2 separate regions of the Homo sapiens genome follow, and region 2 is linked to region 1. Evidence: fine-mapped expression QTL. A gene starts in region 1. The other region holds a variant in brackets. All regions are shown on one strand. Distances are from middle to middle.

Region 1 (5,377 bases):
TTACAAAGTAAGTGCTATGGAAAAAAATAAAGTACAGAAGAGATATTTGGGAAGGGCTGCATTTTAAATACGGTAGTCTATGAAGGACTAAGAAATAAACATATTGAGTACAGATCTGAAGAAGAAGCAAGTCATAAAGATATCTGGTGGGAAACTATGCTAAGAAGAAAAACCCAATATGGCCAGGCGCAGTGGCTCACACCTCTAACCCCAGCACTTTGGGAGGCCAAGGCAGGGGGATCACCTGAGGTCGGGAGTTCAAGACAAACCTGGCCAACATGGTGAAACCCCATGTCTACTAAAAATACAAAACATGAGCCGCACATGGTGACTTGGCCTGTAATCCCAGCTACTAGGGAGGCTGAAGCACGAGAATCACTTGATCTGGGAAGCAGAGTGGGCAGTGAGCTGAGATCGTGCCACTGCACTCCAGCCTGGGGCTCTGTCTCAAAAAAAAAAAAAAAAAAGAAAAGAAAAACCAAATGCAAACATTCTGAATCAGGAGTATGTACACATACAGTGTTTTTTGAGATCAGCAAGGACAGTACAGCTTGAGTGGAATAAGCAAAGGGTAAGAAGTAGATGAGGTAACAGAGGTAGCAGAGGACAAATCCAGAGGGCCTTGTATACCACCGTAGTGGAAGCCACTGGAAAGTTCTTTTTTTTTTTTTTAGACAGAGTCTCGCTCTGTTGCCAGGCTGGAGTGCAGTGGCGCGATCTCGGCTCACTGCAGCCTCCGCCTCCCGGGTTCAAGCGATTCTCCTGCCTCAGCCTCCCAAGTAGCTAGGACTACAGGCACGTGCCACCATGCCCAGCTAATTTTTGTCTTTTTAGTAGAGACGGGGTTTCACCATGTTGGCCAGGATGGTCTTGATCTCTTGACCTCGTGATCCGCCCGCCTCAGCCTCCCAAAGTGCTGGGATTACAGGCGTGAGCTACCGCACCCGGCTGGAGACCACTGGAAAGTTCTAAGCAGAGGAGTGATTTGACTTACACTCTAATGGTATTACTGTGTTGAGAATAAACAATACTGTGTGGAGAACAGACCATGCAGGTGCAAGGACAGAGCAGGGGACACCAGTTGGGAGACTACCGCCATAATCCAAGCCAGAAGATGATGGTGGCCCAAACCAGGGCAACAGCAGTGAACATGATGAGAAGTGATGAGAGTTAGTCTGGCTAGAATTCAAAGTCAAAGCCTATCAGAAACTGCTAATGGACAGAAAGACCTAAGAGAGAGCGGAGTCAAGATACTAATGCTGAATCCCCAATGCCTTGTGCACAGGCGGGTACCCAATATATGAAGATCTAGTGAATGGCTGCGACTAGCATTTTCCCACCTAGACCGTAAATTCCCCTAAAACAGCACCTGTGTCAGAATCCTAATCTTCTCACTCCATGTTAACGAGAGCAGTAACTTTTCTGACTAAAAGTTGAGCACTTAATATGTTAGGTATGCCCACGCTATGCTGTGCTTTGCACACACCAAATCATTAAATCCTCACAACATCTAAGCAAGGTGGCTATTTTCTGCATTTCACAGACCAGGAAAGTAAGGCTCAGAAGTAGTTACCTGCCCTAGGACACATCACTGAAAATCAAACTTCAGGCAATTTGAATCCAAAGTCTGCTTTTAACCACTTTACTATCCTGAACTTCTCAAATAATGAAACGGTGAGCCACTGACTCATTCATGTGTCACCCTGGGCAAGTAAGTTCCCTTCCGTGGGATTCCAACTTCTCATCTGTCAAATGGTAGTAACAAGAGTACATGCTTCCAAAGTTACGATGAGGCTACATGAAATTCCACCCTGCACAGCGTCTACTCAGTAACTTCCAATGCAGTTAACTTAGTTCTTACCTAGGGCCATGCACTGTTCTAAACTAAGCACGAAGATTATTTCACTTAATAAAGCAACTCAACGAGGCAGATAACGTGACTAATTTGACTAACTTATTTTACAGATGAGAAACTGAGGTGTAGAGGGGTTAAGTAACCTGCTTTGGGTTACACAATGAATACGTGGCCGACTGCAAGTTTGCACCTAGAGTGTCACTTGAGAACTTATGCTCCAGGCTCCCAGAGAGAAGTGAGGGTTTTCTTTGCCCCTTTCACTGAATGGGAAACTACAGCACAAAGAAGGACAATCTGCCCAAAACCTCACACGGAGTAAGGGGCAGCGCCGGGACCAGAACCTTAGGCCGCCTGGCCCAGAAGCCCGCGCGAGTGAAATGAATGAGGCCAGACCTAGGCTAAGCGCGTCCGCGGTCCCCACGGCTGAGCCTCGGGGCGACCCGTAGCTCCGCGCTGCACCCCTCCCCCAGGCACCAACCCCGCCAGGTCGCGGGCACTCCCACCAGCTCGCAGCCCTCCTTCGGACCCTCGATCCGAGAGCGCCCCAGCCAGAGCTTGTGCCCATGCCCCTGTCCCGCAGGGGAAGGGGATCCCGCCTGGCCGGCTCTCGAGCGGCGACTAGTAACCTCCCGCGGGCGACAGCCCTCTCCCCAAAGCCACGCGCAACTCCTCACCCGGCGGCGCCATTCCTCCGAGCAGGTCCCGCCGGAGTCCGAGCCGCGGGCTGACTTCCGCTCGGGAAAGTGGCTCCAAGAGCCCGCCACAGGGGACGCCAGGGACTCGCGGCAGGCTCTGCGGGCCAGGATGAGTTCTAAGCACAGGTCAGTGTCCGCGGCCCCGCTGAGCTTCGACGCTTCCAGCAGCCGCGGCCGGGATCCCAGTCCTCCCGCTCACAGGGCCTTGCAGTTCCCGAGGACAGACCCGCCTCTCCCCCGCGCCCAGGCCCACTTGGAACCGACCGTCTCGCAACGCTCCTATTCCGGGAGCTACCGGGACGCGGTTGGGCCAGGCCTCGGGGTGGGCCCGAGACGGGGCCGCTTCTGATTGGCCTGTCTGCTGTCACTCACTCGTCTTTCTGCTGCCCGGCCCATTTTAAAGGAACAGGAAGGGTCTCGTCGGGAGGGGATAGCTTAGAAGGGATTTTTTTTTCCTCTTTAGAAAATTGTGGCAGTTTCTGGCCGGGCGCAGTGGCTCACGCCTGTAATCCCAGAACTTTGGGAGGCCGAGGCGGGCGGATTACCTGAGGTGAGGAGTTCGAGATCAGCCTGGGCAACACGGTGAAACCCCGTCTCTACTAAAAATACAAAATTAGCCGGGCGTGGTCACACATGCCTGTAATCCCAGCTACTCGGGAGCCTGAGGCAGGAGAATCGCTTGGACCTGGGAGGCGGAGGATGCGGTGAGCCAAGATCGCGCCATTGCACTCCAGCCTGGGCAACGAGTAAATCTCCGTCTCACCAAAAAAAAAAGAAAAAGAAAATTATGTCAGTTTTTTCCAAAGATTATCAGTGGGGTTGTTAATAACTGACCTACGAGTGACGTTTTATCTGATTTGCAGAGCAATGCAGTGACTCATAGAGAACATATTAGGCCAGTTTTACAGGCTCAACATGGAGGTGGCTCATCCAGGAACACCGCTCTAATAACTAGCGCCAACTACTGAATGTTTACAGTATAACCCGACACTGTGCCGAACGCTCTACAAGCATTATTTCTTTTCTTTCCTTTTTTATTGATACGGGATCTTGCTCTGTCGCCCAGGCTGGAGTGCAGTGGTGCGATCACAGCTTACTGCAGCCTCGACATCCTGGGCTCAAGCAATCTTCCCTCCCGCCTCAGCCTCCGGAGTAGCTGGGACTGCTGCCTTGCGACACCACGCCCAGCTAATCTTTAAAATTATTTTTGGTAGATACCGCGTCTCGCTTTGTTGCCCAGGCTGGTCTGGAACTCGGGCTCAAAGGATCCTTCGGCCTTAGCCTCCCAAAGTGCTGAGATTACAGGCTAATCCCATTTTAAAGAGAAGGAAACAGATTTGAACCTAGGCAGCTGACTCCAGAATCTGTGCTTTTAACTACAGTTTTATGAACATATAAAGTATGCACAATATAACTCTTATTAACGTTATTATTGTCCCAAATGTTATCCCGCATGGGAGAGAGTCAGTTCTTTCTGTGTCTGTTATGATAGCCACTAGCCTTATGTGGATATTTAAATTTGAATTTAAATGGATTAAAATTAAGTAAAATTTAAAATTCAGTCTCTCATTTGTACTAGCCACATTTCAAGTGCTCAGTAGCCACAGATAACTAGTGGATATCAGATTGGACCACTCAAAATTATAGGACATCTTCATTATTGCAGAAAGTTCCATTGGGCAGTGCTGATGTAGAATATATAAAGAATTCTCCCAGCTCAAGAATAAGACAACCAACCAGTGGTGTGCTGGAGCTGTCTCATACTATCTTGAGAGTCCATTGTTAAATTTGCAGTAATTTTGCAAATTGGTTAAATACAGCCATTTAGAAAATTATATCAATTTAGGATGAAATAAAGTATATTGAAAACAAAACTCATTATTTTCTAATTATTTCACTACATTTTACGTTTTGTGTGCTTTTGTGGTTGCTTATATCTGTTGTAACTGTGTGGTGGAAATATATGACAGTATGCCATTGAACATCTCTTCCCAAGGTAGTATTGGTAGCTTGATTTTGGCCATGATGGGAGTATTTACACCACAGACTTAGCATATGCAGCCAGGAATGGTGGCTCAGTCTGTAATCCCAGAGCTTTTGGGAGGCTGAGGTAGGAGGATCACTTGAGTCCAGGAATTCGAGACCCACCTGGGCAACACAGCAAGACCTGCCTCTACAAAAAAAAAATTTTGATTAGCCAGGTGTGGTGGCTCGCATCTGTGGTCCTAGTGACTAGCTGTGGACCACAGATGGGAGCCACCACACCTGACTAATGAAAAAGAAAAAGACCAACAATAGCAAATGTTGGCAAGGATGTGGAGCAACAGGATCTCTCATATCCTGCTGATGGAAATGTAAAGTGGTACGACCATTTTGGAAACAGATTGACAGCTTCTTCGTTGTTTGTTTGTTTGTTTTGAGACAAAGTCTCCCTCTGTCACCCAGGCTGGAGTGCAATGGCACAATCTCAGTTCACTGCAACTTCCATCTCCTGGGTTCAAGCGATTCTCGTGTCTCAGCCTCCCGAGTAGCTGGGATTACAGGCGCGCGCCACACTGCCTGGCTGAATTTTTTTGTATTTTTAGTAGAGACGGGGTTTCACCATGTTGGCCAGGCTGGTCTCAAACTCCTGACCTCAAGTGATCCACTCACCTCAGCCTCCCAAAGTGCTGGGATTACAGGCGTGAGCCACTGGCGGTGGTTGTTTTTTACGAGGCAAGGTCTCCATCTGTCGCTCAGGCTGGAATACAGTGATGGAATCATAGCTCACTGCCGCCTTCACCTCCTGGACTCTAGGACCCTCTTGCCTTGGCTTCCTGAGTAACTG
Region 2 (5,377 bases), 61 kb before region 1:
GTAATTGCAGTTTTTGCCATTCTAGAACTAGAGGCAATGGGCCAAGGCACATAACCGTAGGTCAATCAGGAAAGATGCCAAGTGCTAAGCTGCGTCAGCATTCAACTCCTTTAATCCTATGAGGTAGGTAGTTATCATCTCTCTTTTACAGAAACACAAAAGGAGGTTTACGGAGGTTAAACTACTTGCCCAAGGTCCCTCACCCTAGTAAGTGGCAACACTAGGTTTGCCTGGAACCAAAGTCTACGCAGTCAACCATGCTATGCAGTATTACTTCTCTCTGTGCTATTATATAACCTCATGTAATGGGCACAACTTCAGAGGGGGCATTCTTGAGATGTGGCCTTCTAGACTAAAGTCACTCAAGTGGTCAGTGCTATGGTTTGAATTTGTGTCCCTTGAAAATTCATGTTGCAACAAATCTCCATGCAAGTCTTTTTTTTTTTTTTTTTTTTTGGAGATGGAGTCTGGCTCTGTGGCCCAGGCTGGAGTGCAATGGCTCACCGCAACCTCCGCCTCCCAAGTTCAAGCTGTTCTCCTGCCTCAGCCTCCCAAGTAGCTGGGATTACAGGCATGCACCACCATGCCCACCCCTTGGCTAATTTTGGTTTTTTAGTAGAGACAGGGTTTCACCATGTTGGCCAGGCTGGTCTCAAAACTCCTGACTTCAAGTGATCCCCCTGCCTCGGCCTTCCAAAGTGCTGGGATTACGGACGTGAGCCTCCATGCCTGGCCCCAAGACAAGAGCCTTGAGCAGAGGTCCTAGCTGCAGTCCACCTGCACATTCCTGTTGTTTAGCTGTGTTCTTGCCAAGTCACACTCAGTATCTAACCTAACACAGAAAGATTCTCAAAAATGGGACTCAGCTCACAGAAAATGTTAAAGGGGATAAAAACCTATCCCCTTGGACCCCTAGAGGTCCAAATGGGGCCTTCAGATACCAACAGGGCTCCTATGCAGACAGCTGGTGCTCACTGCTGGAGAAGAAAAAAGGAAGCTGGCCTTTCCAGGCAGTTCTCAGTTCTGTTAGGAGCAAGGGGCAAGAAGGACCAAGAAAGGCCTGGAGAAATATGCTGGCATCAACAGCATTTCCAACTAAGTCCTCATGTCATATACCCAAGGACCCCACCACCCAAAAGTATGAGAATAAGCTCTCAATCAGGCCTTTGTTCCTATTGTTACCCTCTTTATTCCAAAACAATTACACATTTCAACTTTTCAAAAGCAACATCTGGGTAAGTTAGGAATATTCACAGCTTCTTACACAGTGTCAGAGAAAGAGACTATCTGAGCTCACCAGGTATCTGCTGTGTGTTGGGGAAACTGAAAAACAAGCAAAAGTATAACTACAATCTGGACTTTTTTCTTTTTTAAATAAAGTTTTTTTTTTCCATTTTTCTTCTCATACTGTGAATTGTTCTTGACTCCTTTTCTTGACATTCAGTTTTCAGAATTTCCATCTTTCTTCTGGAACTAATGTGCTGTTCTGAAAGAAAATGGAGACAAACACAGAATTACTGAAGGTTTCAGTTCACAGTTACAGTTCCTAACTGGTGACAACAGAGAGACTAAGGTACTCTCCCGCTCTAAGATCCCATTTATAAGGGAATAATCATTTATCTCCCAAGTCTATTTATGTATGCCCCATCTCATTTTACAAAAGAATGTGAGACAGCTAGTTCATAATTAAGCTGATGACAACTTAAATACAAATAACAAAACAAACTCAATAATAACTAAGAAAGTGGTATGTGACAACATAAGGAGATGAGGTAATTCCAGGCACACCTCTCACAGTGCAAGGCCAAAAACACAGTGTAAATTTCAATTAGATGAACAAAGAGCAAAGTTTAAATAATGCTCATCATCAATCTCCCAGACTCCAGCTCTGCCAACCAACACTTGGCCCTTCTGTAGCTTAGAACATGACATCCTGACCATTCATTACAGAAACCTGCACATTCCTGCCGTGTGGCCGTGTTCTTGCCAAGTCACACTCAGCATCTAACCTAACACAGAAAGATTCTCAAAAATGGGACTCAGCTCACAGAAAGTGTTAAAGGGGATAAGAACCTATCTCCTGTACTCTTTGTTTCCCCTCCGCTGCCTTTCCCTAGACTCTAAGGAGGGATGGGGAAGCACAATGAATGAAAATGACAATCTAGACAGACTGTGAAGCTGAGGAGGTGACTGCAGTGAGTAACTGATCCCAGCAGGCTCCAGCAAGCAGAGGCAGGGTTGCTGACACACACACACCATCCTTCAGTGGCAGCTCTTCCCAGGGGTGAGGACTAAGGTGATAATGATCCAGTCTTGCAGAATGGCAGACTCCAAACCCATTAATAAAGCAGTTCCAAAAGACATGCACAGGCATGGAATTAATCTTGAGGGCTGGGGTGTGCACCCCTAATTCCTTGCCAGTATTCAGAGGTTCTTAGGTACACTAATATGTGGGCATTCAGAAATGTTCATGCAGAAAGGATGGCATGAGTATGAAATAAGAACAGCCGAAGGGTAGTGGCCCACAACTCTTGACTGCGGCTAGAACTTACGTCCCACATTATGTCTGCTCAAATCAATGTCTGCCCTCAGATCAAGAACACTTTGCTACCAGGGGGTTTCCTTTCAAATGCTAGGAAATGCCAAATGTCCAAATGATCAAGTGACTTTCCTCTTCCTCAAGCAATGATTTGGGGATAGCAGGGTGGGAACGGACTTTAAAACTCAAGAGACTGAGTAAGGTGGCTCACGTCTATAATCCCAGCACTTTTAGGGGCCAAAGCAGGAGGATTGCTTGAGCCCAGGAGCTTGAGACCAGCTTGGGCAACATAATGAGACCCCATCTCTATAAAAAAAGTTCTTTTTAATCAAGAAAAGAAATCGACTTATTTAAAGAATTAAAGAACTCAACATGTAGCAGCAAGGACAGTTGCTGAAAGCAAATCTCAGACAGAGTGACTATAATGTAGGAT[G/A]AAACCAAACGGGCATAGCCAGGGAGTGGGGGTGGGAGAAGGGTCGGACTCTAAAAGGGGCACCGGGGAGCTCTCTGGAGAGTGGCAATACCTATATCTTGACTGAGGTGGTGGCTACATGACTACAGAGGTTTTTCAGGATTCACAGAATTGTACACTAAAAAGGGTACATTTTTCTGCAGATAAATTACAACTCCATTAAACCTGGAAACAAACAAACAAACAAACAAACAAACAAACAAATGCAGTTCCCTTCTGTGTTGAGGACTAGGTGACCCAGCTTATGCTCACACATCCATGGAAAGGCTCCAAATACTATGCTTTTGTTGATCTCTCCTATTTTCAGAGGATTAGAAATTAGATGGTTTTGTGGCTTTGGCAGGGAAAGCCATTTCCAAGGCAAAGGATAAAGGAGAACATGACTTGAAAATTCAAATACCTCCCCTCCCTTTGTTGGTCTAGGGCAGGGGTCAGCAAACTGTGCCACTCAGGCCAAATCCAGCCCACCACCTGTCTTGGTGAATAAAGTTTTGTTGGAACACAGCCACACCCATTTGTTTATACAGTCTATGGCTGCTTTCACATGACAGTGACAGAGTTGAGTAGTTGGTGCCAAGAGACCATATGGCCAGTTAAGCCTAAAATACTGTCTGGCTCTTTACAGAAAACTTTTGCCAGACCCTGGTCTAGCGGAGCAGATCAGTGAAGCATCAGACTCTCCTTCTCCTTCCCTCCACTTCCCTCCCATCCTAGGACTGATATGCAGAAGGAGAATGAGTGGAATCTCACTTCACATTTTAGTCACATGGGGAGCAGCCCTTTTAACATACCCTGAGTGCTAGGAACCTGGATTCTGATGCTGGCTTTGATCTGTGGCCATCAGTCCTTCATAAATTACAGTCTCCCCAGACCACAATGTTTAGCCCAACTAGAGATCGGTGTTACAGAAAAGTCTAGAAACAGTGACAAGGTGTGCCAGGATTTGCCATGGGACCGTCATTTAATGAATTTTGGATTTGTCTTATCCTCATCTCAGCTGTCCTGGAAACAGAGAGAGAGGCTTGTCTATAAATAAGTAAGTACCCCACGGGATATAAGGGAGAATGAAGTCTTATACAGTCAAAGCCAGGCCAAAGCTGCTCACTGCAAAGTTATCCCATCAGCTGGGCTAACTCAGGAAGCTTTTGCCCTGGTCCAGTCACAACCTCATCTAGCAAGTTGAAAAGCAGCCTCAGAATTCAGCTGTGGCTTAGGGAGGGGTGGGAGGAGCAAGTGGGCTGAAAACTAGAGAGATAACTGACATGCATGAGGCGGGCAAGACGGGGAAGGGACCCTGCTTCTGGGATGAGTCCGCCCTTCATCTTTACCGTAGTGTCCTATATTTTGCCAATCTACTGCTCTGCTCTGCAGCGATCCTGCCAAAGGAAAGAGGGTTTGAGAATCAAGAAAGGACAGTGAGGGGAGAAATCAGCTGAGGAAAGAAATGACAAACACCCAACCAGAGCTTCCATTAGGGTCACTGATTTTTCCAGGGTAGAGTTCATTCTAGGACTCACAAAGAGGGCCACAGAAGAGTGGGCTTTAAGTTTTTGAATCGAATACATGAGCAGGGGAGAGGGAGGAGTTACTGATCCTTCTGGGATTCTGATAAAAACCATAGTCTCTCTCCCCATAAAATGCATACAACTTTAGGATTCCAGATTAGGAACTCCTGCTAAGCAGAACATAAACCAAATGGTTTCTACTCAATTCTTGTCTTGATTTTTTTCTTAATTTTTATTAATTTTTTGAGAGACGAGGTCTCACTATGTTGCCCAGGCTGGTCTCCAACTCCTGAGCTCAAGCGATCCTCCCGCCTTAGCCTCCCAAAGTGCTGGGATTATAGGCATAAGCCACCATGGCGGGCAGATTTCATTCTTCTCGAGTGAGCAACTTCCAGAAAAGAGAGAACTTAGCAGAGCAGTCTTTTGGCTCCCTGGGGGCCCAGGCAGGTGCTGCAAGGGAACAGGGTTCTGCTTTGCAAAAGCAACTGAGTCCTGGCTCTTTCTCAGGTACAATGCAGAACCACCAGGAAAAGGCTACTGGAGGGTGGCAAAATGAACCAGCTGCCACTGCTGGTGCTAAGGGAAGCTCTGGTGGGCCCTGGATTCCTACAGGAAAGCCAAGGAACACGTCTGTGCCGAGTCTCCATGGTGAAATGCTCAGAAAGCTCACAATGGAGACTCGGGCGGAGATGAGACATCTTCTCCCACCCACTGATGGTCTCCCTGAAAAAGCCTCTCTCTGATCCCAGCACCCTAACTGGCAGCCACGTTGAGGGTACACTATTGAGTTACATTCTTCCAGCAAACGTCCTGGATAGAAGAAAGCGGCACATCTGAAAACGATTTCCAGAGGTGAAAGCA

Which allele goes with the higher level. Alleles are on the strand shown, and positions count from the first base shown. SD is a standard deviation of normalised expression in the study named.
As copies of A replace G in region 2, the expression in anterior cingulate cortex of the gene that starts at base 2,351 in region 1 goes up (moderate effect, 0.47 SD a copy in GTEx).

The links. PIP is the estimated chance that this variant, and not a neighbour inherited with it, causes the effect.
Region 2: its variant is fine-mapped to the expression of MROH8 in anterior cingulate cortex (GTEx, PIP above 0.99). The same link has a PIP of 0.9 or more in amygdala and cerebral cortex.

What each region holds. Positions count from the first base shown.
Region 1 is chr20:37,176,522-37,181,898 of GRCh38, reverse strand. MROH8 (maestro heat like repeat family member 8) reads left to right here and starts at 2,351. Exons shown (of 25, transcript NM_152503.8): 1 at 2,351-2,510; 2 at 2,512-2,676. The coding sequence starts at 2,419. RPN2 (ribophorin II) reads right to left here and starts at 2,569. Exons shown (of 17, transcript NM_002951.5): 1 at 2,530-2,569. The coding sequence starts at 2,542. RefSeq lists a silencer at 2,294-2,343 and enhancers at 1,894-2,451, 2,464-2,513, 2,864-2,943, 2,452-3,011.
Region 2 is chr20:37,237,412-37,242,788 of GRCh38, reverse strand. It overlaps RPN2 (ribophorin II), which reads right to left. Exons shown (of 17, transcript NM_002951.5): 17 at 1,170-1,486. The coding sequence ends at 1,474. Among named protein-coding and RNA genes, the nearest start is that of GHRH, 22 kb to the left of the region's middle. The variant G/A (reference allele first, on the strand shown) is at 2,973.